Homo sapiens: one gene and its partners. The gene in region 1 interacts genetically with each later gene. Each region holds a gene or a part of one and is shown in the gene's direction. Other genes may lie near its edges. The genes, in order: KRAS, NXF1, GSPT1, PSMB6, UBTF, CDCA8 and AAMP.

Evidence for each region.
Region 2: changes in KRAS (region 1) and NXF1 are lethal when combined (synthetic lethality), as found in Homo sapiens cells (2 studies listed by BioGRID, with this or other methods).
Region 3: changes in KRAS (region 1) and GSPT1 are lethal when combined (synthetic lethality), as found in Homo sapiens cells (3 studies listed by BioGRID, with this or other methods).
Region 4: changes in KRAS (region 1) and PSMB6 are lethal when combined (synthetic lethality), as found in Homo sapiens cells (3 studies listed by BioGRID, with this or other methods).
Region 5: changes in KRAS (region 1) and UBTF are lethal when combined (synthetic lethality), as found in Homo sapiens cells (2 studies listed by BioGRID, with this or other methods).
Region 6: changes in KRAS (region 1) and CDCA8 are lethal when combined (synthetic lethality), as found in Homo sapiens cells (3 studies listed by BioGRID, with this or other methods).
Region 7: changes in KRAS (region 1) and AAMP are lethal when combined (synthetic lethality), as found in Homo sapiens cells (2 studies listed by BioGRID, with this or other methods).

What each region holds. Positions count from the first base shown.
Region 1 is NC_000012.12:25,205,798-25,209,962, reverse strand, and holds part of KRAS (GTPase KRas), read left to right. Parts: intron 1-51; coding exon 52-168; 3' UTR 169-4,165. UniProt on the Homo sapiens protein: Ras proteins bind GDP/GTP and possess intrinsic GTPase activity. Plays an important role in the regulation of cell proliferation.
Region 2 is NC_000011.10:62,798,624-62,802,788, reverse strand, and holds part of NXF1 (nuclear RNA export factor 1), read left to right. Parts: intron 1-528; coding exon 529-612; intron 613-742; coding exon 743-847; intron 848-969; coding exon 970-1,050; intron 1,051-1,157; coding exon 1,158-1,227; intron 1,228-1,371; coding exon 1,372-1,460; intron 1,461-1,587; coding exon 1,588-1,695; intron 1,696-2,302; coding exon 2,303-2,412; coding exon of another isoform or gene 2,413-2,467; exon of another isoform or gene 2,468-4,165.
Region 3 is NC_000016.10:11,867,255-11,871,248, reverse strand, and holds the end of GSPT1 (eukaryotic peptide chain release factor GTP-binding subunit ERF3A), read left to right. Parts: 3' UTR 1-3,121; downstream 3,122-3,994. UniProt on the Homo sapiens protein: GTPase component of the eRF1-eRF3-GTP ternary complex, a ternary complex that mediates translation termination in response to the termination codons UAA, UAG and UGA.
Region 4 is NC_000017.11:4,794,614-4,799,270, forward strand, and holds PSMB6 (proteasome subunit beta type-6), read left to right. Parts: upstream 1-1,550; 5' UTR 1,551-1,581; coding exon 1,582-1,683; intron 1,684-2,114; coding exon 2,115-2,182; intron 2,183-2,824; coding exon 2,825-2,956; intron 2,957-3,068; coding exon 3,069-3,198; intron 3,199-3,395; coding exon 3,396-3,540; intron 3,541-3,646; coding exon of another isoform or gene 3,647-3,666; coding exon 3,667-3,809; 3' UTR 3,810-3,882; downstream 3,883-4,657. UniProt on the Homo sapiens protein: Component of the 20S core proteasome complex involved in the proteolytic degradation of most intracellular proteins. This complex plays numerous essential roles within the cell by associating with different regulatory particles.
Region 5 is NC_000017.11:44,212,779-44,216,943, reverse strand, and holds part of UBTF (nucleolar transcription factor 1), read left to right. Parts: intron 1-239; coding exon 240-415; intron 416-954; coding exon 955-1,038; intron 1,039-1,134; coding exon 1,135-1,290; intron 1,291-3,661; coding exon 3,662-3,726; intron 3,727-4,004; coding exon 4,005-4,125; intron 4,126-4,165. UniProt on the Homo sapiens protein: Recognizes the ribosomal RNA gene promoter and activates transcription mediated by RNA polymerase I (Pol I) through cooperative interactions with the transcription factor SL1/TIF-IB complex.
Region 6 is NC_000001.11:37,695,267-37,699,431, forward strand, and holds part of CDCA8 (borealin), read left to right. Parts: intron 1-643; coding exon 644-684; intron 685-3,638; coding exon 3,639-3,711; intron 3,712-4,165.
Region 7 is NC_000002.12:218,263,586-218,267,759, reverse strand, and holds the end of AAMP (angio-associated migratory cell protein), read left to right. Parts: intron 1-146; coding exon 147-266; intron 267-773; coding exon 774-913; intron 914-1,172; coding exon 1,173-1,317; intron 1,318-1,612; coding exon 1,613-1,696; intron 1,697-1,813; coding exon 1,814-1,929; intron 1,930-2,077; coding exon 2,078-2,181; intron 2,182-2,298; coding exon 2,299-2,389; intron 2,390-2,585; coding exon 2,586-2,740; intron 2,741-3,151; coding exon 3,152-3,227; 3' UTR 3,228-3,631; downstream 3,632-4,174. Other genes in the region: GPBAR1 (G-protein coupled bile acid receptor 1), read right to left, coding at 4,043-4,174. UniProt on the Homo sapiens protein: Plays a role in angiogenesis and cell migration. In smooth muscle cell migration, may act through the RhoA pathway.

The sequences.
Region 1 (4,165 bases):
ACATGAAGCCATCGTATATATTCACATTTTAATACTTTTTATGTATTTCAGGGTGTTGATGATGCCTTCTATACATTAGTTCGAGAAATTCGAAAACATAAAGAAAAGATGAGCAAAGATGGTAAAAAGAAGAAAAAGAAGTCAAAGACAAAGTGTGTAATTATGTAAATACAATTTGTACTTTTTTCTTAAGGCATACTAGTACAAGTGGTAATTTTTGTACATTACACTAAATTATTAGCATTTGTTTTAGCATTACCTAATTTTTTTCCTGCTCCATGCAGACTGTTAGCTTTTACCTTAAATGCTTATTTTAAAATGACAGTGGAAGTTTTTTTTTCCTCTAAGTGCCAGTATTCCCAGAGTTTTGGTTTTTGAACTAGCAATGCCTGTGAAAAAGAAACTGAATACCTAAGATTTCTGTCTTGGGGCTTTTGGTGCATGCAGTTGATTACTTCTTATTTTTCTTACCAATTGTGAATGTTGGTGTGAAACAAATTAATGAAGCTTTTGAATCATCCCTATTCTGTGTTTTATCTAGTCACATAAATGGATTAATTACTAATTTCAGTTGAGACCTTCTAATTGGTTTTTACTGAAACATTGAGGGAACACAAATTTATGGGCTTCCTGATGATGATTCTTCTAGGCATCATGTCCTATAGTTTGTCATCCCTGATGAATGTAAAGTTACACTGTTCACAAAGGTTTTGTCTCCTTTCCACTGCTATTAGTCATGGTCACTCTCCCCAAAATATTATATTTTTTCTATAAAAAGAAAAAAATGGAAAAAAATTACAAGGCAATGGAAACTATTATAAGGCCATTTCCTTTTCACATTAGATAAATTACTATAAAGACTCCTAATAGCTTTTCCTGTTAAGGCAGACCCAGTATGAAATGGGGATTATTATAGCAACCATTTTGGGGCTATATTTACATGCTACTAAATTTTTATAATAATTGAAAAGATTTTAACAAGTATAAAAAATTCTCATAGGAATTAAATGTAGTCTCCCTGTGTCAGACTGCTCTTTCATAGTATAACTTTAAATCTTTTCTTCAACTTGAGTCTTTGAAGATAGTTTTAATTCTGCTTGTGACATTAAAAGATTATTTGGGCCAGTTATAGCTTATTAGGTGTTGAAGAGACCAAGGTTGCAAGGCCAGGCCCTGTGTGAACCTTTGAGCTTTCATAGAGAGTTTCACAGCATGGACTGTGTCCCCACGGTCATCCAGTGTTGTCATGCATTGGTTAGTCAAAATGGGGAGGGACTAGGGCAGTTTGGATAGCTCAACAAGATACAATCTCACTCTGTGGTGGTCCTGCTGACAAATCAAGAGCATTGCTTTTGTTTCTTAAGAAAACAAACTCTTTTTTAAAAATTACTTTTAAATATTAACTCAAAAGTTGAGATTTTGGGGTGGTGGTGTGCCAAGACATTAATTTTTTTTTTAAACAATGAAGTGAAAAAGTTTTACAATCTCTAGGTTTGGCTAGTTCTCTTAACACTGGTTAAATTAACATTGCATAAACACTTTTCAAGTCTGATCCATATTTAATAATGCTTTAAAATAAAAATAAAAACAATCCTTTTGATAAATTTAAAATGTTACTTATTTTAAAATAAATGAAGTGAGATGGCATGGTGAGGTGAAAGTATCACTGGACTAGGAAGAAGGTGACTTAGGTTCTAGATAGGTGTCTTTTAGGACTCTGATTTTGAGGACATCACTTACTATCCATTTCTTCATGTTAAAAGAAGTCATCTCAAACTCTTAGTTTTTTTTTTTTACAACTATGTAATTTATATTCCATTTACATAAGGATACACTTATTTGTCAAGCTCAGCACAATCTGTAAATTTTTAACCTATGTTACACCATCTTCAGTGCCAGTCTTGGGCAAAATTGTGCAAGAGGTGAAGTTTATATTTGAATATCCATTCTCGTTTTAGGACTCTTCTTCCATATTAGTGTCATCTTGCCTCCCTACCTTCCACATGCCCCATGACTTGATGCAGTTTTAATACTTGTAATTCCCCTAACCATAAGATTTACTGCTGCTGTGGATATCTCCATGAAGTTTTCCCACTGAGTCACATCAGAAATGCCCTACATCTTATTTCCTCAGGGCTCAAGAGAATCTGACAGATACCATAAAGGGATTTGACCTAATCACTAATTTTCAGGTGGTGGCTGATGCTTTGAACATCTCTTTGCTGCCCAATCCATTAGCGACAGTAGGATTTTTCAAACCTGGTATGAATAGACAGAACCCTATCCAGTGGAAGGAGAATTTAATAAAGATAGTGCTGAAAGAATTCCTTAGGTAATCTATAACTAGGACTACTCCTGGTAACAGTAATACATTCCATTGTTTTAGTAACCAGAAATCTTCATGCAATGAAAAATACTTTAATTCATGAAGCTTACTTTTTTTTTTTGGTGTCAGAGTCTCGCTCTTGTCACCCAGGCTGGAATGCAGTGGCGCCATCTCAGCTCACTGCAACCTCCATCTCCCAGGTTCAAGCGATTCTCGTGCCTCGGCCTCCTGAGTAGCTGGGATTACAGGCGTGTGCCACTACACTCAACTAATTTTTGTATTTTTAGGAGAGACGGGGTTTCACCCTGTTGGCCAGGCTGGTCTCGAACTCCTGACCTCAAGTGATTCACCCACCTTGGCCTCATAAACCTGTTTTGCAGAACTCATTTATTCAGCAAATATTTATTGAGTGCCTACCAGATGCCAGTCACCACACAAGGCACTGGGTATATGGTATCCCCAAACAAGAGACATAATCCCGGTCCTTAGGTAGTGCTAGTGTGGTCTGTAATATCTTACTAAGGCCTTTGGTATACGACCCAGAGATAACACGATGCGTATTTTAGTTTTGCAAAGAAGGGGTTTGGTCTCTGTGCCAGCTCTATAATTGTTTTGCTACGATTCCACTGAAACTCTTCGATCAAGCTACTTTATGTAAATCACTTCATTGTTTTAAAGGAATAAACTTGATTATATTGTTTTTTTATTTGGCATAACTGTGATTCTTTTAGGACAATTACTGTACACATTAAGGTGTATGTCAGATATTCATATTGACCCAAATGTGTAATATTCCAGTTTTCTCTGCATAAGTAATTAAAATATACTTAAAAATTAATAGTTTTATCTGGGTACAAATAAACAGGTGCCTGAACTAGTTCACAGACAAGGAAACTTCTATGTAAAAATCACTATGATTTCTGAATTGCTATGTGAAACTACAGATCTTTGGAACACTGTTTAGGTAGGGTGTTAAGACTTACACAGTACCTCGTTTCTACACAGAGAAAGAAATGGCCATACTTCAGGAACTGCAGTGCTTATGAGGGGATATTTAGGCCTCTTGAATTTTTGATGTAGATGGGCATTTTTTTAAGGTAGTGGTTAATTACCTTTATGTGAACTTTGAATGGTTTAACAAAAGATTTGTTTTTGTAGAGATTTTAAAGGGGGAGAATTCTAGAAATAAATGTTACCTAATTATTACAGCCTTAAAGACAAAAATCCTTGTTGAAGTTTTTTTAAAAAAAGCTAAATTACATAGACTTAGGCATTAACATGTTTGTGGAAGAATATAGCAGACGTATATTGTATCATTTGAGTGAATGTTCCCAAGTAGGCATTCTAGGCTCTATTTAACTGAGTCACACTGCATAGGAATTTAGAACCTAACTTTTATAGGTTATCAAAACTGTTGTCACCATTGCACAATTTTGTCCTAATATATACATAGAAACTTTGTGGGGCATGTTAAGTTACAGTTTGCACAAGTTCATCTCATTTGTATTCCATTGATTTTTTTTTTCTTCTAAACATTTTTTCTTCAAACAGTATATAACTTTTTTTAGGGGATTTTTTTTTAGACAGCAAAAACTATCTGAAGATTTCCATTTGTCAAAAAGTAATGATTTCTTGATAATTGTGTAGTAATGTTTTTTAGAACCCAGCAGTTACCTTAAAGCTGAATTTATATTTAGTAACTTCTGTGTTAATACTGGATAGCATGAATTCTGCATTGAGAAACTGAATAGCTGTCATAAAATGAAACTTTCTTTCTAAAGAAAGATACTCACATGAGTTCTTGAAGAATAGTCATAACTAGATTAAGATCTGTGTTTT
Region 2 (4,165 bases), on another chromosome or scaffold:
CTTTTAGAATAAATAAAATTGATTTTTTTTTGAGAGATTATAAGTGTAAATGGGCTGGGTACAGTGGCTCATGCCTGTAATCCCAGCACTTTGAGAGGCCGAGGTGGAGGATCACTTGAGGCTGGGAGTTCAAGACCAGTCTGGGAAATACAGCAAGACCCCTTCTCTACAGAAAATTTTAAAATTAGCCGGGCATGGTAGTACATGCCTGTAGTCCTAGCTACTCCAGAAAGCTGAGACAGGAGGATCGCTTGAGCCTAGGAAATGAAGGCTGCAGTGAGCTATGATCGCACCACTGCACTCCAGCCTGAGTGACAGAGTGAGGCCCTGTTACTAAGAAAAAATAGTAAGTGTAAGTAGACAGAAAGGAGTTAAAGAATCTATGTGTATCTCAAGTAGAAAACCTAGTACTGGTCCTTTCTTTAGATAGTCTTTAAAAGTTTGGTAGAAGGTATAAAAGGCATTGTATTGGGTCTGCTATTCAGCCTTACTTATCATTCCCTTCTTTTCTCTTTCTCTCATTTCTAGATTCCTTATGGCAGAAAGTATGACAAGGCATGGCTCCTGAGCATGATTCAGAGCAAGTGCAGTGTGCCCTTCACCCCTATTGAGGTAAGACAAGGCCTGAGTGGCTGGCTGGCCAGGCACCAGGGATGGTGAAGGGGCAAGCTGGACTCCCAGCGTAATGCCCCTCCCCAAGGGCTCTGGACTCCCAGTGTAATGCTCCTGTTTCCTCTTGTAGTTTCACTATGAGAATACACGGGCCCAGTTCTTCGTTGAAGACGCCAGTACTGCCTCTGCATTGAAGGCTGTCAACTATAAGATTTTGGATCGGGAGAACCGAAGGGTGTGTTTAAAGGGCCTGGCTTGGCTGGAGGTGGAGGTTGGTGCTCAGAGCAGGGACTGGGTCTTGTTCTTGCGGCTTAGGCTTCCCTAGAGTTTTCTGTGCCCTCTGTGTCTTCCCTCCAGATATCTATCATCATCAACTCTTCTGCTCCACCCCACACTATACTGAATGAACTGAAGCCAGAACAAGTAGAACAGCTAAAGGTGAGGCAGGCTCAAATTAGATGTTTCCAACCCAGTCTTACTACTTCTCACACCCCCACCCCCCACACACAAACCCAGTGACCACTAAACCCTTCTTTTTCCTCTAGCTGATCATGAGCAAACGATACGATGGCTCCCAACAAGCCCTTGACCTCAAAGGCCTCCGTTCAGACCCAGGTATGGTTGACAGCAGTAGTTCTCAGATAGGTGGTGATAAGGTGGGATCTGTCAGGGAGGGAAAGTTTGAGGATGTTTTACTGCTAATGCTGGCATGGGCAAACCCTCTCAGTCTTCCCTTTCCTTCCCTTCTGCTTCCTGAAGATTTGGTGGCCCAGAACATTGACGTTGTCCTGAATCGCAGAAGCTGTATGGCAGCTACCCTGAGGATCATTGAAGAGAACATCCCTGAGGTAAGGCCTTTGGCCCAGTATTAGGCATGAGGAAGCAGGGTGTGTTAGATAGGAAGTGGCTGGAGGGCAGATTCGTCTCTGATCCACTTGCTGGTGGTGCCTCCTCTAAACTCTTCTCTCCTCACAGCTATTGTCCTTGAACTTGAGCAACAACAGGCTGTACAGGCTGGATGACATGTCTAGCATTGTTCAGAAGGCACCCAACCTGAAGATCCTAAACCTTTCTGGAAATGAAGTGAGAATTGATAGCTCGGCTATATTTTTGAAGGGGTGGGTAGAGGGTGTAGAGAGTTTGTCCAGTGATGGCAAGAGGCAAGAGAGAGAACTCAGGCCAGATGTGCTGGTTTGCAACTCTAATCCTAACACTTTGGGAGGCCAAGGCAGGAGGATCACTTAAGGCTAGGAGTTTGCACGCCTCTAGTCCAAGCTGCCCCAGGGGGCTGAGGTGGGAGGATTGCTTGAGCTCAGGAGTTCAAGGCTGCAGTGAGTTATGATTGTGCCGTTGCATTCTAGCCTGAGCAACCTGTCTCAAAAAAATTTTTTTAATTTAAAAAATAAATTAGTCGAGCATGATGTCACATGCCTGTAGTCCTAGCTACCCAGGAGTCTGAGGTGGGAGGATCTCTTGAGTCCAGGAGTTTGAGGCTGCAGTGAACTATGATCATGCCACGGCACTGAACTTGGGTGACAGAGTGAGACCCTGTCCCAAAAAAAAAAAAAAAAGAAAAAATTTTAAAAGATTAGAAAAGATCTCAGAGCTAAGCGTAGGGACTGGGGGTATGGGGAGCCAGCTGGCTGTCTTCACCAGGGTCTCCTCCCTTTGTTCCTTCCACCCTTTGCAGTTGAAGTCTGAGCGGGAATTGGACAAGATAAAGGGGCTGAAGCTAGAAGAGCTCTGGCTCGATGGAAACTCCCTGTGTGACACCTTCCGAGACCAGTCCACCTACATCAGGTCAGTTGTAGCCTGTGTCTCCCCTCCTGGGGACCTTCACCCCCTGGGAGGCTGAGCTAATGCATCCTGACCAGGGCCCGTCTGCGGAGATGTGCAGCCCTGAGCTGGAACCACCTGTCCTTTGAGAGGATCGCGTGCTCCCCACTTTGGTCTGTCTGTGTCTTCCAGCTTTGTCCTGAGATGTTCTCTCTTCTCTTCTGACTTGACTATCTGTTTGCTGGGTCTGTGGCCTTTCTCTTTCTTCCTGAACACAACCTTTTCTAGAATCTCCCTACCCTGTTGTTCCAGGAAAGGCATCTCCCCTTTCTACTCTAACCAGAGGGTATCTTGTACATACCCTATAGATGGGGTTGCCTTGTGCCAAGAGCCTGGTGTCCATGGGTTGAGGAAGCCCTCCCTACCTGGGACTTCCTACTGAGATGGGCCTTCCCTCCTTTGTACTGTGATGGCCCCTCTTGCCCTTGCGCCAAGAGGGACCCTTTTCTCAGGATCCACTTGCCCAGGGCTGTTGCTGTCCATGCTGAGGTTGAGGCCTCCTAGGGGCTGGTGGCATGCAATCTGTCTCTCTTGCCCAGTGCTATGAGCTGGGCTCTCCCTGAAGAAGAAACCTGGGTTCCCCAAGATGTGACCAGAGCTGGGGCCCCGCCAGCAGGCGAGGGAATCCCAAGGCAGGTGCTGGGCGTGGAGGCCACGGGGGCATAGGCTACCAAGGAGACAGAGAACTGACCCCCTCGGGGGCGCTGCCTCTCCCTCACTCACACACTGCACGTCACCCTGTTTGGCCCCGGTGGATGGCTGGTTAGCCAGAGACGGGTAAGATTCCTCAGGGAAGGAACAACCTAAGACAGGCACAGTCGCAGAGGGGCCATCAGGAGAGAACTTGGGGGCAACAGAGGTGGGGCATGGACCCTCACCCCCACAATCCTACAGGGGCCTGAACCCTCACACCTTCTGAGGGAGGTCTCCTGCCCCCATGGCTGCTTTGCTTCCCACGCCCAGTTCAGATCGGGACCCAGGTAGCAGACAGAGACCTGGCCAACAGCAAGTGCCCACTCACCACAGCAAGGATTTGTTTCTCATTTCTACCTTGGACCACAGGGATGGGGCAGCTGAAAGAAAGGGCTGTGTCAGGGTGTCTTTCTCCCTTTTCTCCCTCATTTTTCTAGATGCTTTTTTGCCTTGTAGTTCTTTCTCTTTTTCTTTGCTTTCTCTTTCCTTTTTCTGTCTGTCTCCTATACCTCCCCATCTCTCCCTTGCCCCTGCCCCATCTTGCCTTTTTCTCTTTTTCCTCCTTTTCCTTTCTTATTCCTTTGCCTCTCCTCTTCCTGAGCCCCACCTGCTCATCTCCCTGCCCCAACATCCTGTGCCATCCCTGTGGTGTGTTTGGGTCTTGGCCAAAGCCAGACCTGGCAGAACTGATGGATACCTGGTGAGGCAGCGGAGCCCCTGGGCTCCCACCCCATTCCCTCCTCCCGGGGCTGCACAGGTGAGTAGGTGGAAGGTAAGGGGGGCAGGGAGGGGAAAGAGGTCCTGGGCTTAAAGCCTGGGCTTGGAGTACTGCTCCTTGACACTCAGGGTCAGGCAGAGAGAAAAGAGACAGCCTTCAAGGCAGTCCATGTCTGGGTGCCCCGGGTCAGGTGGGGAGTGGGGGCCATTTTTCCCTGAGCACAGGCTGGGAGGGAGTGGAGGGATGAGCAGGATGGGATGGGCTGTCCCTCGGGTTTGGTATATTTGCTCCTAGAGCAGCCCAGGA
Region 3 (3,994 bases), on another chromosome or scaffold:
TTGAATGAGGCTACATCTTATGGACAGAGCAAAGTTATTGTCCTACAGATTCTTAAAACTATAATTATGGCTATTGCATGAAATTTAAATAGATTTTATTATGTCTGCAAATCTCTGGGCTTTTATTTTTCTGGAAAATATAGGAGCTTTAATCAAAACATAATAGTTCTTTTTGTAATTCCATGTTAATAAAAACAAATACTAGCAATTGCTTGAATTTTAATGAATATTTAAAAGTTCAAGAGCCACGGAAATCACTTCCAGAGATAAGAGTTCCCTTTCTAAATAGAACACATTTTTAAAAAATAAGTTATGTTTGCTACTAAAACATTTACACTGTTAGACTATTATGTGCATGTTGCCAAGACTCTTAAGTAACTTGGATATCAACTGTGAAGGGCCTACCTCTAAAAAGTAACAGGTCATACAAATACAAATGTAACTGTAAAAATTCCACTGGATTCTTGCATATTTGCAAGATTAGATTATTCAAAAGAAATTTCAGTGCTAAAATTAACCAGCAACATAAGTTCTATGGGCTTTGAAAATTGTTCTCATCTTTTTAAAGTTGATGCATTTTCAATCCTGCTTACACAGGCTGTTCATTTGGATAAGTAAATAAAATGTCTAAGGTGAACTTGGCATTATGTGGAGATGTTGGACCGTTATAGAGCAATACAAATTCCTATGCTGTCATTCTGTTTTCTGCAAATGCAAACGTGCTTATATGGTCAACAGTGCAAAAATAGGGTAGTTGGCTGCATATTTAGGGTATTACCTAAGCATTTGTTCTCTAACGTTGCTCTACTAGAATGATTTTTTTCTTGCATCTTTTCACATTAATGATGTTCTTTATATAACTTTCATGCGATTATTTAGTTTTTTAAATTAATAAAGTGAATTTAAGAAATATTGAAATAAACATCTAAGTAATTGCCATTTTAAACCCTTGTTTCTTACTGTGGGAGAGGGGGAAATACAGCACTCATTTCTTGTTTTTAATTTGCAGAAGTAAGTGAAAATCTATGTAAAATCAAACCAAAAGAGTTGGACTGAGTGTGTATTGTCTTGAGATTAAGTGACAAATAGTAAAGTGTTACTGAGTAATTAAGCCCATGTATTTTTTTTTTGTGAGTTGAAAATCTTTGAAATATGTGATAACCGAATGTCAAAAGTTCCTAAACTCTAACAGTGCAGGTTGTTCACTGTAACGAGGTAACTCATATTTGCTGGTTACATAAACTACAAGTACTGCTCTCACAATATGGGACTTTGAACTGTGATGTAGTTCAACAGTTGCCGGCATCCTCTCAGCTGATACGCTGCGAATATTTTGGGTTAGACTTGCAGCCAGATGCAGTTTTGCAACCCAAGAAAAAAGTTGAACCTATGATCAAAAACTGCTCCCAAGATGAACCTGGAAAAAAATCAGCTAAGCTCCCTTGGCGATCTGCAGGAACACTAGTAATGACTGGAATTACTCCGTGATCTTTGATGACTATTACACATAACAGCACTCTAGCACCTTTTCTTACTGGCATGGACTTCCTCATGGACTGCTACTTCATGGATGATAGCTTCATTGCTTTGGGTAGGGATTTAAGGTAGTCAAGGGGAAAATACGCAGTTTTATTACAGGTCTTAACATCAGGCAACTTTCAACTTTAAAACCCTTTGTGAAAAATGTGGTTATAGCACTATAGCTCTGATTTTAGGATGGTTAAATGTTATATTCATTGTTGGCTTACCTTATCAAACTGTGCCATTAATCCTTTCACAGACATAGGTAAGGAAGAGAACAACCAGTGGATTCAGGGGACAATTATCTATCTCCAAATAATAGGCTTTTATTTCTTGCAGCTAACTTTTTCAGTGATTCTAGCAGATGCCATCTAGTACATCCTTGATCTTGTTTCTTTCGTGAGAGATCTCGCCATGGCAGCATCTTGTTAAGTAAGTGTAATTGCACATGCACAAAAGACTTAACTAGCTTTACATTTAGCAGTCAGTTGGTTAGATTAGGTTTCATAGTAAATGAATAGGAATAGAAAGAATAGGAAGTGTTTTTATTTTCCAGTAGTAATTCCGTGGATTCCATTTGACCCAGTTTACTATCAGTTCAGTTCAGGTAGATTTGGTTCAACTTTTGGTGGTTTTTGGCTCTAGGATATTCTTGACTTTAATATCCTAGAACTTACTGAGTCTTCCCTTCAATAAATACACTTCTCACATACCTCTAATCCTATGCTTCCTTGAAACAATAATGCTAGCTGAGTTGTTTACTAAGGATTATTATAAGGGCCTGAAGGTGTGGGAGTGGAGATTAATTAAAACCTTTATGTTCTCCAATATAAGGGAAAAGCAGGTTGGTACTACTTCTGATTAGGCAGAAAACACCAGGATTCCTTAAGTGATCCTTGAAATGGTTATTGTTTTCTGCCTTGTCACATTTGCCACTGTGCCCTTTAAAACGATGTGGAAACCTCAGGTTTGTGGACAGCACAGGTGGAATGACATCTTGTGCTTCCTGAGGCTCCCCTCTACCAGGCACATTAGCTTAGTGCTTCAGATGTCAGCCCAAGTCCTTGTTACCTCCTTTTCCTGCTGCCCAGGGAAGAGTGTGTGTGCTGGAGCTGGAGCGCTTGCACTCTTCAGGTGACTATTCTCACCTCCATTTCCTCCACATGCATTAGGTGAAACTGAGGTCTAAGCCTCCTGCAAGGTCTACATTTTAAGGACTCACACATCAGGCTCTCAGAAATGTACACAGGTATTAGTTCTGTTTGTTCTAAAGGAAATGTGGGTATCTCTCAGGCCAGGACTTAGTGACTAGTTTTCGCTAGACAGCAGGTTAATACCTAGATCTCATTTAAAAAAAAAAAAAAAAAACAGGATTAAAGGGAACTGATCAGGTTTGTTGAGTTTTTTAGCCTAATTCCAAAGCATGGAAGAGTGCTCTAGGTAGGAAAGAAAGCTTTTTCTTACGATTTGTAGCTACCTACTGTGCCTGACTTGGTGCCTGTGTGAGGATTAAGCCCTTAGTCTGCTCTTGCAATTATTCAAATGACAAATTAAATTTGCTTTTGTAATAACAATAAAAGTTGTCATCTTCCCTTTTGAAGGATTTGTCGTTTGTAATTACCTGTGTTGTAACAAGCAAAAACCATGCCCTTTTTTGTACAATCCTTTTATTTTTGTATCAGGTACTGGAACCATCTACCAAAAGGTTTGTTGGATGGATCTAATAAGCTCTGTCACATAAGGGATTCACAAACGTCATCTGCTTGCATATGGCATGCAAGTCTTTTGTATAATGTATACGACAACCTTAGGAAACAAAAATAAGAACCCTATAGGAAGTTAGGGATGCTGAATAATAAATAACTAGATCACAGTTATGTGGTTTTATGTGAACAGTAGAGTTGGGGGAAACGTCAATTATTATTAGAACTATGAACCTCTACATTCAGGATTTTTAATAAAGATCAAGAGACCAAATAGTGCTTGCCCTTTTCATTCAATGTGCAAGGGCAAGAAGAAGTTAATGATAAAGGTAACATACACAGTGGCTACTTGAATGACAGCAGTTCATTCCTGTGTACTAAGTTCCTGTTTGAACTGTCTTTAGGTGAATCGCTTTGAGGTTTTGGCAGTCAGCCTCTAGGTATTTGGCATTAAACCAATCATAGCTTAAAACTTGGGACCAAGCTTGCTATTAAAGTAGGGGTTCAGGCCAGGCACGGTGACTCATGCCTGTAATCCCAGCACTTTGGGAGGCTGAGGCGGGCAGATCACTTGAGGTCAGGAGTTCCAGACCAGCCTGGCCAACGTGGTGAAACCCAGTCTCTGCTAAAAAACACAAAAATTAGCTGGGCGTGGAGGCGTGTGCCTGTAATGCCAGCACTTTTTGGGAGGCCGAGGTGGGTGGATCACGGTGTCAGGAGATCGAGACCATCCTGGCTAACACGGTGAAACCCCGTCTCTACTAAAAATA
Region 4 (4,657 bases), on another chromosome or scaffold:
GCCGAGATCACACCAGTATAAAAAGACAAATAGAGGCCGGGCGCGGTGGCTCACGCCTGTAATCCCAGCACTTTGGGAGGCCGAGGCGGGTGGATCATGAGGTCAGGAGATCGAGACCATCCTGGCTAACAAGGTGAAACCCCGTCTCTACTAAAAATACAAAAAAAATTAGCCGGGCGCGGTGGCGGGCGCCTGTAGTCCCAGCTACTCGGGAGGCTGAGGCAGGAGAATGGCGTGAACCCGGGAAGCGGAGCTTGCAGTGAGCCGAGATTGCGCCACTGCAGTCCGCAGTCCCGCCTGGGCGACAGAGCGAGACTCCGTCTCAAAAAAAAAAAAAAAAAAAAAAAAAGACAAATAGAGCTGGGTTCAGTGGCACACACCTGTAGTCCCAGCTACTTGAGAAGCTGAGGCGGGAGGATCACTGGAGCCCAGGAGTTCGAGGCTGATATAGTGCACCATGATCCCATCTGCACTCCAGCCTGGGAAACACCGCAAGACAAACCCACCCCACACACACACCCCACCCTCGTCTCAAAAAAAAAAAATTAAACCCCAAAAATATATTAAACAAAAGACATATCCCAATTTTAGAATGTGCAAAGAACTTGAAAAAACATTGCATCAAAAAAGACATACAAATGGCCAATTATCTCATGGAAATATGCTCAGCATCACTAATCATTAGAAAAATACCAATGAAAACCACAGGGTACCACTTCACACCCACTGGAATGGCTATAACTAAAAAAATGCACAATAACAAGTGTTGGTGAGGATGTGGAGAAATTGGAACCCTCACACATGGCTTGTAGGGATGTAAAATGGTGCAGTTTCTGTGGAAAACAGTTTGTCGGTTGCTCAAAATGTTAAACATACAGTTATCATAGAACCCATAAATTCCTCTGCCAGCATATACTCCTAAGTATATAACTAAAAGAAATGAAAACATGGTGTGGTCACTTTAGCCCAAAGACTCTCAGGTTTATTTTGTGGGCCCTTTGGACTGTAACTCCATAAGATCGGTACGGCGCAAGCCACTAGGACTGTTTTTTGTTTTGTTTTGTTTTTGCTTTTGTTTTGAGACAGTCTTGCTCTGTCGCTCAGGCTGGAGTGCAGTGGCGTGATCTCGGCTCACTGTAACCTCCGCCTCCCAGGCTCAAGCGATTCTCCTGCCTCAGCCTCCCCAGTAGCCGGGATTACAGGCGCGCCCCACCACGCCCGGCTAATTTTTGTATTTTTTAGTAGAGAAGGAGTTTCACCATGTTGGCCAGGCTGGTCTTGAACTCCTAACCTCATGATCCGCCCGCCTCAGCCTCCCAAAGTGCCGAACGGTTTTTGGGTTTTTTTTGGTTTTTTGGGGGGGGGGTTTTGCTGACTTTCTTGTTTTGTTTGTTGCTTGCCACGCTGCCATCAAGTGCTCACTGTCGCAAAAGAACCGTCCCCATGCAGTACTGTACTTTTCTTTTCCCTTCTGCCGTCAACCTCGGAGTAGCTTCGCTCCCAGAAGGCCTCAAAGCGCGACCAAAGAGCGTGACAGAGCGCTTTACGACAGTTGCTTTGAGGCAGTACCGGAGGAGAAAGATGGCGGCTACCTTACTAGCTGCTCGGGGAGCCGGGCCAGCACCGGCTTGGGGGCCGGAGGCGTTCACTCCAGACTGGGAAAGCCGAGAAGTTTCCACTGGGGTGAGGAAGGAATCGGGGTTCATAGGACGTGCACAAGGCCTGACGCGATGGGAAGATAAAGCCTGAGTGGGGTTGAGAGATCTGGCAGGGGTGGAGAGGAGGTGGAATGTGTTGTGCTCCAGGAATGGGGAGAGGTACCCCGAAGATGGTGGAGTGGTGCGGTAGCTTCGTAGTGGGAGGTGGAGGGTGGGCTGAAGTTTGAAATTCTGAAATCCTGCGAGGCTAGTGAGGATCTTGGGCTTAAGTACGGGATGAGTCTTTTGAGATTTGAGGGTTGGCATTCTGGTATTCTGCGGGGTGCTGAGGCCCCTATAAGATTTGAAAATGGTTCAGCGACGGACAGATTTTGTATTTTTGGAACTAGGTAGAGAGATCATTGAGGTTTGTGTCTGCTGGAGAATGTAGACTTACTCCTTTTTCCCTTTTCCCAGACCACTATCATGGCCGTGCAGTTTGACGGGGGCGTGGTTCTGGGGGCGGACTCCAGAACAACCACTGGGTGAGCTCAGGACAGATTTGTGAAAGGTCTTCCCATCTTCCTTTTCCTTTCCTGCCTGCCAGCCCACCCTGCCTGCCTCCACAGACCACTGTGGGAAGAGAGGTTTCTTCTCTCTCTGGAGATAAAGATTTGTCCCAACTTTTGTTACTTTCAGTTCCCCTCACTCGTTAGTGGAATCCTTACAAAAGTCTGTTCTCCAGCCCGCTTCAGTTTGGATGAGAATAAGCAATACTGGAGGCCAGGCACGGTGGCTCACGCCTGTAATCCCAGTACTTTGGGAGGCCGAGGCGGGTGGATCACCTGAGGTCAGGAGTTCGAGACCAGCCTGGCCAACATGGCGAAACCCCGTCTCTACTAAAAAATACAAAAATTAGCCGTGCGTGGCGGTGCGTGCCTGCAGTCCCAGCTACTTGGGAGGCTAGGGCTAGAGAATCGCTTGGACCCAGGAGGTGGATGTTGCAGTGAGCAGAGATCGCGTCACTGTACTCCAGCCTGGGCAACAGAGCGAGACTCCATCTCAAAGAAAAAGGAAAAAAAGGCAATACTGGACATCCTATCCCTGAGCCCTAAGAGAGTGGGTAGTGATGGGATGGAGGTGGAAGACAGGTGGGCTCCTTTCCTCACTATTCTGCCATCCTGCAGGTCCTACATCGCCAATCGAGTGACTGACAAGCTGACACCTATTCACGACCGCATTTTCTGCTGTCGCTCAGGCTCAGCTGCTGATACCCAGGCAGTAGCTGATGCTGTCACCTACCAGCTCGGTTTCCACAGGTGCTTGTGGGCAGGGGAGGGGCAAGTATCTGAAGGGAGTTGGAAGCTGAGGAGCTAAATAGCCTGACTTCTAGGTCTTGAAACTTTCTCTGTGACTTCCCTGACCCTCTAGCATTGAACTGAATGAGCCTCCACTGGTCCACACAGCAGCCAGCCTCTTTAAGGAGATGTGTTACCGATACCGGGAAGACCTGATGGCGGGAATCATCATCGCAGGCTGGGACCCTCAAGAAGGAGGGCAGGTCAGATCCCCACCCGACCAGAGCACACTTGAGCCAGGACTTTTATCCTCTCCCCAGCCATTTTCTTTTTCTTTCCAGTCTCTACCTCACTTATTCTTACTATTAACGTGCCTCAGACCAATAGCAGAATGGACAGGTGAATGTACGTGTGTTGGAGGGAGGATACGACTGGTGACTCCTCTCCTTCTATCTGGCAGGTGTACTCAGTGCCTATGGGGGGTATGATGGTAAGGCAGTCCTTTGCCATTGGAGGCTCCGGGAGCTCCTACATCTATGGCTATGTTGATGCTACCTACCGGGAAGGCATGACCAAGGAAGAGTGTCTGCAATTCACTGCCAATGGTGAGAGCTTAGGCTTCTGGGCCTATGAGCTTCAACCCCAACTACCCAAGCCAGGCCAGCATTCCTCATTCCTTGCAGTGATCCCGGCATCTGAATCTGAACCCAGCTTTCTTCTTTTATCCACAGCTCTCGCTTTGGCCATGGAGCGGGATGGCTCCAGTGGAGGAGTGATCCGCCTGGCAGCCATTGCAGAGTCAGGGGTAGAGCGGCAAGTACTTTTGGGAGACCAGATACCCAAATTCGCCGTTGCCACTTTACCACCCGCCTGAATCCTGGGATTCTAGTATGCAATAAGAGATGCCCTGTACTGATGCAAAATTTAATAAAGTTTGTCACAGAGAATCTTTGTACTTTGGGGTTCTTTTTTTTTTGACTTCAAGTCCGAATTTGTCTGGCCCATTCCTATTTGTAAAAACCATTGCACTGAACTCAGAGCAAGTTGGAGAGGAGATGAAAGGAGTTTATGAATGCTTTATTCCCCAGTAAACTTTTACATGGGTGGTTTTCAAACCTCTTCTCCAAATTGCCTTCCCCCAAACTTCCTTTCCCCCACCATATCCAGGTCCTTGAACCACTGGATTGTGGTTGGTGTTGGGGGTACCAGCAACACCCACTCCCTGTTCAAGCCCAAGGTGGAACTCGGAATTCTGACTAAAACTGGAGTCACCTTCCTTCAGCCTGCTTCCTGCCAGTCATCCTGGGTGACTACTGTCCCTAAGGCCACAAAGACCAGCCTCCTCCAGCCCAGCCTCATGGTCCCCTCTCTCCACACTTAACCTCTGTTACCTCACCTTGTGGTCAGCAGTAGCACTGTGACTTCCTTGGCTTTTGGGAGAAAGGTGGGCCTTGTCTGCAAATGGAATTTAAGATGAATGATGAGTGGGAGAACAAAACCACTGGGAGTGGTTTGGCCAGCTCTGGAAGCCACCATTCCCATGGTAGGGGGTGTGATCAACCTCTTGGATGAGAGGCTGAAAATAGACTCTGGCCCTTCCGAAGCTGTCCCCACTCAAGCCAGGGACATAAAGGAGCTCGATAGCTGGGACTACAGGTGTGTGTCACCTCACCTCAGGCTAATTTTATTATTATGTATTTTTTAGAGACAGAGTCTCGCTCT
Region 5 (4,165 bases), on another chromosome or scaffold:
CAGACTTGAGTTCGAGCCTGGCTTTCTAGGTATAGCATGGTCTGGACTGGAGTCCCTGCCCTGATCCAATATGGCCACAGTTTCCTTAGGGCTGAGCCATATCTTGTCTGTGCCTTCAGATGGGAAGCAACCAGGGGCTGGGATGCCCTAGGGAGGAAGAGTTGAGCACTCAAGAACTGGGGAACAGATCGGGGGGATAGCATGAGCCAGGCATGATGGCCTCTGTTACTCTTTACCAGACCGTTGGTCCCAGGAAGACATGCTGACTTTGCTGGAATGCATGAAGAACAACCTTCCATCCAATGACAGCTCCAAGTTCAAAACCACCGAATCACACATGGACTGGGAAAAAGTAGCATTTAAAGACTTTTCTGGAGACATGTGCAAGCTCAAATGGGTGGAGATTTCTAATGAGGTAACTGATCCCCCTTTTCTGACATACACACATACCCCCCACTCAGCGTGGTGGGGGAAGTGAAACAGGCTGTAAACAGGAAGGAAAGAGACCAGGAGAGGCATTCATGTGGTCTCCCGTTAGCTCTCTACCTGCCCCTTTGCATTTTGGGAGGTGGCACGGTTGACAGCACTGGCTTAAAGTTATGCCACTTTCTATCTGAGTGGTCTTGAGCCAAACAGCCTGAGCTGTGCTGAGATTGACGGAGGTGCTAGCATGCTGAGATTGACGGAGGTGTTAGCATGGACAACCAGGTTGAGGTCAGTTAGTCCCCTTGTTGCTGGCCTTTGGTGTGTACTGACTGCCTGGGCCTCTGCGGTAGGCATGGGCCAGTGCCTGGGTGTCATGCTGCCTGCTTCATTTGGCTGTTGGCCTCTGCTCTTCTTTGGTAAATTTAGTCTAGTAAAGAGTAGAAGAGACCCGTTATAAGATGGGGGTATACTACTGTGTGGCATTTTCCTTTTCCCAACTTCCCCTTCCTCCCACCCCTCTTCCTCCAGGTGAGGAAGTTCCGTACATTGACAGAATTGATCCTCGATGCTCAGGAACATGTTAAAAATCCTTACAAAGGCAAAAAACTCAAGGTGAGTTACTAGGAGGAGGAGCATGAGGGGTATGGGAGGAAAGGTCCAAAGAAGGGATGTATTTGACCTCCATTGTGTCCTTGTCCCTTCTTCCAGAAACACCCAGACTTCCCAAAGAAGCCCCTGACCCCTTATTTCCGCTTCTTCATGGAGAAGCGGGCCAAGTATGCGAAACTCCACCCTGAGATGAGCAACCTGGACCTAACCAAGATTCTGTCCAAGAAATACAAGGAGCTTCCGGAGAAGAAGAAGGTGGGGGGAGGAGAGTTAAGGTGGGAGGAGGGGAGAGGCTGGGAGCAGCTGGTGTGGTGTGGGTCAGTTGGAGGTAGGCCTTGGAGAAACCTGGCATCAGGGATGAGGGTGAGTCAGCACAGCAGAATAGGTCCTGGGCAGCCACACCTGATTGCCCCTTCCTCGGCCCACACATGGTCAGGCACAGGCACCATCACAGATGTAAACCAGACAGCAGGTGCTCAGACCAACCTTTCCCCCTACAGAAAACCCACAGCATTCTGTTTCAAGCTCTCTCTCCCCCATACACCCATCCTCACTGTTAGGCTCCGCAGCACTTCTTCACCCTCTATGACGTTTCCCGTCATGGTCTCATTTGATACTTGCAATGTCTTTATAAAGGTAACCCTAGGAAAAGGTTATCCCAGTTTTGTGGGCAAGGAACTGAGGTGCAGGAGGGTTAAGTGTCCCGGGTGACACAACTATTGATGCTAGAGCAGGATTTAGTGCCCCAGAGTCCCAGTCCAGTGCTGTTACTGCCACGTCCACCTGTGAAGTGCACTTCTCCACGCACACGTGTTCACTCAAGGACACACATTGTCCCTCCTGGCCTCATACTGTTCCTTGCAGAGGTCGGGCACTGTCCCAGACCATCAAAGCATTAACTCTGGGTGGAGGGTTGCCTAAGCCTCCCAGGCAGGGCTCAGTCACAGAGCTCAGGAGGTCCCTCCCAGAGATAGGCAGCAAAACATTGGAGGAGCCTGCAGATGGGACACGAGGAAGATGGGATGGGGACAGAGGACACAAAGAAGAGACACGGGACAAGGAGACAGAGCCAGGGATAGATGGGGAAGGGCAGCAGGAAAGACAAGAAGCACATCTGCTTGGAGAGGAAACAAAGTCATACACAGCCAGTTCTCAAAAGGGGGCACTGGCCGCTGCCATGCTATGAGTAGCCCTTTTTCCTGGTTGGCATACCCTGGCTGCAGACTCACATGCCCTTGGTGCTGTACCCAAAAAAGCCAGCTGTCTGCAACCACTGCCCAAGCAGAGAGGGGTATGGATTGCTGGAACTGTTGACCCCTTTGATGAGGATGTTGGACAGTTGACTGCACACACCCAAACACTCTCATGGGATGGGAGGGAGAGGCCAAGCTCTAGAGTCAGAGCCAGGGAAGGCCAGAAGAAACTGGTAGAGTGGACAAGGTGCTGTCCTGGGGGACACAAGACTTGGGCCTGTTCTCCTGGCTCTGCCACTGAACCGCTGTGTATGGGGCCTTTGGTAAGTCATTTCACTTCTGTGGGCCTGGTCTTTATGTGAGGTGAGCCAGGTCTGTGTGGTCCCCTTCAGGTCTAAAACTGTTTTGTCTGAGGAGGACTGAGATGGGGGAAGAGGAGGCTGAGCTCTGCTTCTGGTTTTCTGTGGGAACTGTGGGAAAGGAGCACTGCCTTTCTATGCCTGGTGCTTCTATAAGAGGCAGGGGTTGGGCTCAGTTGCCATGAGCTCCTGGCACCTGCCAGTGCCACTCTTGTGAGCCCGCGAGGATGAAAGAAGAGATGGACATTGTGTGGGAGCCAAGAGAGAAGGTCGATGAGGAAGAGAAAGAGACACATTGGAAAGGAGGAACAAGAAGGAGACTATGGAGAAGTGGGGAAAGATGCAGGGAGGGAGTGAGGTGAGAGTGGGGAGGCTAAAAAGGGGGTGATGAAGGGAAGGGAAGCCAAGTGGTGGGAAAGAATGAGTGGGCTGAGGGAGGGAGGGCTGGAGGGGCCAGACAGCCAGGATCCTGGAGAAAGAGAAGAAGGTGATGGTGTGAGAACTGGGCAGGAAGATGCAGGGTAGCTGGCTGAGACTTGTATTGGAAGAACTCGCTCTGGGTTCCCCTCCACACAATCTCCCCTCATGCCTTGGAAACAGGACTCAGCCCAGCCCTGGCCATAGATGTAGAGGCTACGTACAAGGGGACAGACTAATGTCAGCTGCCACAGACAGTGAGAAGAGGGAGTGACAGGAGCAAGGCCTGCACCCGACGCCACTGTGAGAGTTCTATGGTGTTGGAGAAACGAGTGGGGGAGGCTCAGCGCTGCCACTGCGCACTGTGTGACCGTGGGTAATGCCATGGCCCCCTTCTGGGACTCTTGCTCAGAAGGAGAGAATAGGATGTAGGATTCAGTGTCTGGGCGACCCCTGCAGCTCCCACCATCTGTGGTAGAAGCCAGCAGGTCTGCTCTGTGGTGAGTCCCGCCAGGAGGCGGGCAGGGCGCCAGCCTCCACTCCCTGCATCACAGCGTGGGAGGCAGAAGAGCCAGCGAGGAGGGGTCTGGGTGGCCTTCATAGCTCAGGGTGAGATACCCTTGGGTCCTGAGTGACCCCATCCCCTCCTCCCCCCAGATGAAATATATTCAGGACTTCCAGAGAGAGAAACAGGAGTTCGAGCGAAACCTGGCCCGATTCAGGTAAGGCAGTGGAGCCCAGAGGAGGGCCACGGGGCACTGGGGGCAGCAGAATAGGCTAACCCTGGCCAGAGCCTTGAGTTTGCCATCTCTGAGGCATGGAAGAGGATGGGTCACATGTGAGCCCTAGTGTGTCATGCTCAGGGACAGAGACAGGCAGGCAGCCACCGTCCCACTGAGCCCCAGCTGAAAGGCCCAGGAGGCTTGGTGGGTGGGGCAGCTAGCTTGAGTCTGCCCTGGCAGCGTCCCCTGCTGATCCTTGCTCCCCGTGTCCTGGCTAGGGAGGATCACCCCGACCTAATCCAGAATGCCAAGAAATCGGACATCCCAGAGAAGCCCAAAACCCCCCAGCAGCTGTGGTACACCCACGAGAAGAAGGTGTATCTCAAAGTGCGGCCAGATGTGAGTGTCCGGCCAAGGGTTGGGGGTGGAGGATGCACGG
Region 6 (4,165 bases), on another chromosome or scaffold:
CCTATAATCCTAGCACTTTGGGAGGCCAAGGCAGGAGTATCACTTGACCCCAGGAGTTCAAAACCAGCCTGGGCAACATAGCAGGAGACCACATCTCTACTTAAAAAAAAAAAAAAAAAAAAAAAAGACAACCTGGACAACTTGGCGAAACCCTATCTCTACAAAAAAACACAAAAATTAGCCGAATGTGGTGGCGCATGCCTGTAGTCCCAGCTACTTGGGAGGCCAAGGTGGGAGGATCAGTTGAGCCCAGGAGACAGCCAAGGAGGCGCCACTCCACTCCAGCTTGGGTGACAGAGCAAGACTCTGTCTCAAAAATAAATAAAATTTAAAATATATTTTTTAAAAAGAAAAATAAGCAGAATTTTTGGGGTGATGTTTGAGCTGAGTTTTGAAGGATGAGTTAGAAATTTGTTAAGTACGGAGGTGAATTTCAGGCAGAGGAAATACAAAGTACCATGGCAACAAGTCATGAGAGTCAGTGGCACATTTGGGATATAACTTGGAGAAAGAATAGATTAGATGGTGAAGGTCCTTGAAGGTTAGACCAAGGGCTGGACCAGTTTTAGAAAGATAAATGGTACTATTAGGCAAGATGATTTATTGTTAAAATGTAATAGTAACTACAACGTTCTTTTTAAAGCCCTTGGAGGAAACAAACAGGCCCTGGAAGAGGCGGCAACAGTAAGTGACCTTTCCTATTTTCCAGCCAGTGGTTACTTAAGTCTAGTCCAGTCCCCAGATCCAACTAATAGATGCTTACTGTGGAAGAGGTTTCATAAAGGGACATCATCTGTTTGTGTCAACTGAAAAATTAGAGTTGGACCAGACACTGTATACATGAGACCCAGATAGTTCTGAGCCCTACAGAAGGTGGCAGTTCTGTTTTTGACCAATTTCTTGCAGTCCTTTGTTCTGAACTCTACAGCGGAAGTAGAAAGCCTCAAGCCCAAGTTCCTTTAAGCGCCTGAGTCATTACACTATGCATTGGCCTGCTAGATGATAAAGGTGTTTCATCATGTCGTACTGTAGAAGCAGTGCTTTTGCTTGGGATGCTCAGTATTCCCCAACCCCTCTCATCTCCTTCCTCCCAGCATCAGTGCCAGGATTGAAGGCAGTAAGATGGGGATGCAAAATAGAGCATTTAAAGCTGCACTGTCCAGTGTAGTAGCCACTGGGCATATGTAGCTATTTCAGTTAATTACAATTAATAAAATTAAAGAATTCATTTCCTCAGACATACTAGCCACATTTTACATGTTCAATACCTACATATGACTAGTAGCTACTCCATCAGAGAGCACAGAAATAGAACATTGCTACTCTTGCAGAAAGTTTTATGAGACAGCATTGGGAACTAGTCCATACATGGGCTTCACAGAGTCCCTAGGCACTCTAAAATAATATACAAACAATGCGTGTGTATGCACGCATTTGTGTATCTTTCTGTTAGTTTATTGTAGCCTTGATCAGATTTACAAAGTAAACCCCAAAATTACATCTTTTGTTGAGTTGATCAGAATCATTTGGAATATCAGGGTTTGAAGGAGTCTGACCACCAAGGGCACATAGCAGATCTCCGCCAGCTTCATTCAGAAGGTAAAGGTAATGAGGAGCCAATTATCAATTTGGAAAAAATTGGAGCATTTGGGAGAGAGGTGGGGATTATTCACCCCCCTACATACACTGAGCTCCAATGTTTTAAAAGAGTTACCTCTGAGATGAATTATGCTTACTAGCTAATGCAGTTCTCTCTTTTTAAATTAGAAATACAGAACTGCAAATGAGAACTTCTAATGTAATATGAGAGAGCCATTGTTACCACACCAAGTTGAGAGAATTCTAGCCTTGACTAATATGATTTAAAACTCCAGAAAGGAACGATAGAAAATCTATAAAAGCTCTTAGTTGGGAAGTGTGTTGGGGCTCCCAAGACCACCTCCAGGTTTGGTGATTCACTAGGAGGATTCATGGGGCTCAGCATACAGTCACACCCATGGCGATGATTTATTACAGTGAAAGTATACAAAGCATTAATCAACAAAGGAGAAAATTGCATAGGACAAAGTCCAGAGGAAACCAGGCTTCTAGGAGTCCACTCCCTGTAGAGTCAAACAGAACATGCTTAATTCAACACATATGAAATGCTGTCTACCAGAAAATCTGATTAGAGAGTCAATGCCCAGAGTTTTAACTGGGGGCTGCTCACATAGGCATCCTCTGCCTAGCACATGTCAAAATCCTAGACTTTCAGGAGGGAAGTAGGTGTTCAGCATGAGCCATATTGTTTGCATAAAGTTTAGGCACAGTGAGGCATCTTGTTAAGGAAAGGTGGGAATCTTTCTGAAATCAAGTTCCCAGATGCCAACCGAGGCCAGGCTTGCAAACAGGCCTTTCTATGTGTATCAGTCTCAGGCCTGCTCTGTTAACTGTCCTGCACAGTAGATGCCCAGTGGCCTGCCACCACTGATGACTCCATAAAATGCCAGTTGTTTCTAGAGATGGCAGAAGGTTGGCAGGAATGCCCCTACTTTCTGTTGCATCAAGCCTGGCAAACATCAGTAACTTATTACAGCCCTATTTCTTGCTAAGCCTAAGACAGCCTCAGAATCCTTCTCTGAGTATGTCAAGCAGTCCCTACCAGAAATGAAACCTGTGCCATTCCAAACCTGTAGTAATTATTCTGATGTTTACATGTGTTCTATAAGGAAAGGACTGTGAATCATGACTGCTCTTTGTAGTGCCCATACTTATTACCATATGAAAAAAAAACGAATTTGAATGGTGACTGGAAGCCTTTTTGAAGGACCCAGGATCATCATAGAAAACCTTATTGAGACCCTGTAGATTTATCGAAAAAATGGTAAGCTTGACACACCACCAAGTGTTGTAGAGGATGTAGATCATTAGGAACTTGTATTGTTTGCAGATGGGCTGTAGTCAAGGGTAACCACTTTGGGAAACAATTTGGCATAATGCGAAGGCTGAATATTTATGTAACCTATAATCCCTGTCATGTCCTATCCAAAGGATAGAGCCAAGGGGAAACTTGGACATGTACCTCAGACACATGTAAGACAGTTCAAGGTAGCAGTGTTTATAATAGCAGGAAACTATTGATGGAAGATGGACAAATCCATTGTGGTATATTCACACAGTGGGATATGATATAGCAATGAAAACAAATTAACTACAACCACAAAGAGTGGTGAAAACAGCCAAAACCAAACAAAATGCTTAAGTACACACTTGTGAAAAAGCACATCTGTGTGTGCACACATGTATACACACATATGCATGTATCTGTGAGCACATACACATGTACCTTTCGATAAAGCAAGTGCAATGATATGGTTACCCCTGGGGAATGAAGGATTAGGAGACTCATCACCTTTGGAAGAAGAGATAAGAAAATGGAACAAGGAATGAATACAGAGCCAGAAGCAAGTTATTGGCAATGTTTTAGGTCTTGGGCTGTGTGGTGGGTTTATGGGAGTTTGCTATATTGTATATTGTATCACTAACATTTAACAGTCTTATGTATTAAATAATAGTTTTAAAAAAGTTTTTATCTTGAAATATTGTTCCTCATATTTTGGTGGAATAAGCCTGGTGCTTTCTGGCTATGTTTGTCATAGGCTGACCTGGATATCACCGAAATAAACAAACTAACAGCAGAAGCTATTCAGACACCCCTGAAATCTGCCAAAAGTGAGTACCTTTCAAAACTCCTTGTTGTACAGAAAGAACTGAGGCTCAGGTTGCTTGGTTGGCTGCTCAGGCAGCGCCTTGTTGGTAGAGCCTCTTCCCTTTAATGTCTGGTTCTTAATCTTGTAAATCCAAAAACTTGCTTTTGGATGGTGCATTTAGTTAATTTTTTTTCCCCCGAACAGCAATTCAAACCAGAAATTTAGTTAATTTTAGGCAGGACTGCTAAAAACCAAACTCAAGACCCGTGTGCGAGCTAAAATGAAAGTGAAAAAAGGGGGGAAAAAAGCTGTGCTAGAAACCAAACATTGTTGCCTGCTTACTTTCTCCTGGGTTAAATAGATGACAAGATTTAGAGAGGTGTTAAAAGACTGGTAACACCAACTGAGACGCTCCCTGATGTAATCAACAAAGTTGAAAGCGAATTGAAAAAGGAATGACTTTCTCTGCATATAAT
Region 7 (4,174 bases), on another chromosome or scaffold:
AACTTAGAAGAACTTGGATGTACCTGTGTTTTCCAGGAGGAAAGACACGCTTTGGGTGAAAGGGGGTGGGTTTCCTGAAGATTGTGAAGGACAGAGCCCTAGGTGGGAGCTCTGTCCCCTTACCCATGGAATATCTCTTGGGACAGCATCTGTGTTTTGTGTGAGCCTGGACCCCAAGACCAATACCTTGGCAGTGACCGGGGGTGAAGATGACAAAGCCTTCGTATGGCGGCTCAGCGATGGGGAGCTGCTCTTTGAGTGTGCAGGTGAGGGGGCTGGGGTAGAGGCCTGGGAGAGGTCATATTCTTTTGGGAGATCTTAGGAGGCTGACCTGCAGAGGTTGTGCATCCAACAGCCACTTAGTGACATCTCTTTTGTGCCAGCTCTGTGCTGGGCCCCAGGGACACGGGGCGAATACTAGTGTGTTTTGGGCACAGAGGCAGGAGGCACTAATTGGCCAAGGGAATCCAGGAAAGGCCAGAGAAGGCCACATTGGTATAGGAGCAGGCGGGCAGAGGTGTAGAGTGGACAGAAGGGGGAAGGCATAGGAGGCTGGGACTTGGTCTGGTTGAGTGAGGGCCAGCAGTGTCTCCCAGCAGACATGGGAGTATTGGTTCCTAGAGTGGTGGTGAGTTCCAGCACCTGTTCTGCTCAGTCCCGCCCCTCTTTTTTTCCTAGCTGGTCCTTTCAGTGGGCCAGATACCAGAATCACATGCCCCCAGCACCAGGTACCCTATTTTTTTCCTCTGTTTTCTGCCCACTTTTCTTTGAAGGCCATAAAGACTCTGTGACTTGTGCTGGTTTCAGCCATGACTCCACTCTAGTGGCCACAGGGGACATGAGTGGCCTCTTGAAAGTGTGGCAGGTGGACACTAAGGAGGAGGTCTGGTCCTTTGAAGCGGGAGACCTGGAGGTAAGATCATCAGAGCGGGAGTCAGCTCTGTGGGGCCTTGGGTTGTTGGGGGTGCAAGCTTGGGAGGCCAGTTCTGCCTTTATTGCGCCAAGCCAGCTCTGAGCCAATGCGCCCCAAGGCACAGGAAGAATATCTACCTGCTACCTGGAAAGTCCCCGCGGAACCCCAGAGGCAGGAAACCTTGGGTGGAGCTCATGGGGCAGGCTTCTAGGTGGGATGGGGTGACGGGCCTCCCTGCTGCCCCTTCCTCCCTGTCCAGTGGATGGAGTGGCATCCTCGGGCACCTGTCCTGTTGGCGGGCACAGCTGACGGCAACACCTGGATGTGGAAAGTCCCGAATGGTGACTGCAAGACCTTCCAGGGTCCCAACTGCCCAGCCACCTGTGGCCGAGTCCTCCCTGATGGTGAGAGCACCTCCCTTGAGTGACCTTTCCTGGGTGCAGAGGCCGAATCCCGGGATATACACCTCCCAGAGCAGCCTTCTGGGTCACAGCCGGCAAAATCTGAGGCCTGCTGTTTGCAGTGCTGACCTCCTGGGCCCCAAAGTTCACAGCGCCTCCTTCCTGCTCTGAACTCACCTGTGATTCCTGGGGCAGTGTCTGGGCCCTTCCACTCTTCTTTCCTCTCCCTCTCCCCATTCCCTTGCTTAGTGTATGTGAGCGTGCCCTCTGCCCTCTCTTCATCTGTGCCTCTCTTCAGGGAAGAGAGCTGTGGTAGGCTATGAAGATGGGACCATCAGGATTTGGGACCTGAAGCAGGGAAGCCCTATCCATGTACTGAAAGGTATCAGAGGTGGGGGAAGTGTTAGCCTGGGCCTTTGTAGGGAGGGGCTGAGAACCTGGGGCAGGACTCAGAGGGGAGGTAGGACGAAGCCTGAGCTGCCTCCCTGCTCTATGCTAGGGACTGAGGGTCACCAGGGCCCACTCACCTGTGTTGCTGCCAACCAGGATGGCAGCTTGATCCTAACTGGCTCTGTGGACTGCCAGGCCAAGCTGGTCAGTGCCACCACCGGCAAGGTGAGTGGACCTGGAGCCCGGCTGGGGCCTCCGCTTTCCCGACTCCTCTCCTTCCTTCCTGGGTCTTCACTGTCTCCTCTCCCCACCGTCTTTCTCTCCATCAAGCACCCGGATTCCGTGTCCTCCTCTGATCCTCTCTGGCTTTCAGGTGGTGGGTGTTTTTAGACCTGAGACTGTGGCCTCCCAGCCCAGCCTGGGAGAAGGGGAGGAGAGTGAGTCCAACTCGGTGGAGTCCTTGGGCTTCTGCAGTGTGTGAGTGAGGATGGGGAAAGGGGTTTGTGGGAGGGGCCTGGGCTGGGGGCCCGGGAGGACGGCAGGGCGTGTGAGTCCAGGCCCTCATGAGTCTTCATGGTACGCTCCTCTGGCCAGGATGCCCCTGGCAGCTGTTGGCTACCTGGATGGGACCTTGGCCATCTATGACCTGGCTACGCAGACTCTTAGGCATCAGTGTCAGCACCAGGTATGGGCAGCTGGAGCTGGGGTCCCTGTGGGCTGTGTCCATAGTGGTGGGGAAGCCCAGGCCTCCAGGAGCATCTACCCCAGATCTGGCTCCTGCCTGGCCCTTGTGTGTGGCTGTCCCTCTTTGAGAATTGGGAGCAGATGGCTCTCAGCTCTCCTGCCAACCTCCGCCCTGCCTCTGTCATTCCTCGGGGCAGTCGGGCATCGTGCAGCTGCTGTGGGAGGCAGGCACTGCCGTGGTATATACCTGCAGCCTGGATGGCATCGTGCGCCTCTGGGACGCCCGGACCGGCCGCCTGCTTACTGACTACCGGGGCCACACGGCTGAGATCCTGGACTTTGCCCTCAGCAAGTAAGTGAATTGGCCAAGGGCTGGGATCTTTGTGTATTTGGAAGGTGGCAGTAGTATGTAGGGGACACAGGATCCTTGGGGTGTGGGAAGGGATTCCTAAGGCAGGAATGCAGAGAAGCCTGAGGGTTCACAGCCCAGCCCCCATTCCAGTGGCTGACAGTGACCCTCCGGGGCCCCACGTCTCAGTCATGAGGGAGAGGCTGAGACTGATTTTCCCCATCGGAGTCAGCTCTGCTTCTCCCGTGCTGGGGGCTTCCTCTAATCCCCTCCATGCTGGCTGCAGAGATGTCGGCCCAGTGCTAGGCACTAGGGCCCTAGAACTGAGGGTGTGCTGGAGGAGCCCACCCTAGGGCCCCTAGGTGGTGGGCTTGGGTCCCCCAGTCTCTGCAATCACATGCTTTCTGTTTACAGAGATGCCTCCCTGGTGGTGACCACGTCAGGAGACCACAAAGCGAAAGTATTTTGTGTCCAAAGGCCTGACCGTTAATGGCTGCAGCCCCTGCCTGTGTGTCTGGTGTTGAGGGGACGAAGGGACCCCTGCCCCTGTCTGCCAGCAGAGGCAGTAGGGCACAGAGGGAAGAGGAGGGTGGGGCCCTGGATGACTTTCCAGCCTCTTCAACTGACTTGCTCCCCTCTCCTTTTCTTCTCTTTAGAGACCCAGCCCAGGGCCCTCCCACCCTTGTCCAGACCTGGTGGGCCCTTCAGAGGGAGGGGTGGACCTGTTTCTCTTTCACTTTCATTTGCTGGTGTGAGCCATGGGGTGTGTATTTGTATGTGGGGAGTAGGTGTTTGAGGTTCCCGTTCTTTCCCTTCCCAAGTCTCTGGGGGTGGAAAGGAGGAAGAGATACTAGTTAAAGATTTTAAAAATGTAAATAAAATATACTTCCCAGAGACAGAGTCTGTGTGGATTTTGTGATGGCTGGACCCTAGGAGGAGCTAGCGAGGGCCCCGTCAGGGCAAGGCTGTCCCGCAGAATCGGCTGGATGTTGAGATGTGCCAGCTCCCCATCTCCAGGGGTGGTCTGTGCGCACGACACTTCTTGCCTGCCTGGAGTCGGACTCTGCCTTAATCCACGCGTATGTCTGTAGGTTCTTTCTATTGTTGGTGTGTTGAGCCATTTCCTCCTGCCTCGCCCTGAGATATGGAATGAGATAATCATAAACGGCCAGAGGAGCTTTATTCAGTCAGTGCGGGGTCAAACAGAGGCAGGGTCTCTGATCCAGAGAAGTGGGGCCCGGTAGAGACAGGCTGGATGGCTGAGCTGGACGGATGCTCTGGTAGGAGTCAGCAGAGGCCCTTCCTTTAGTTCAAGTCCAGGTCGACACTGCTTTGGCTGCTTGGGTGGTAGGCAATGCTGGGGCCGGGACTGTCCCGGGAGGCTCTTCCCCACAGCCCCTGCAGGCACCTTTGGGCGGCTGCCCTCCAGGGGGCTGT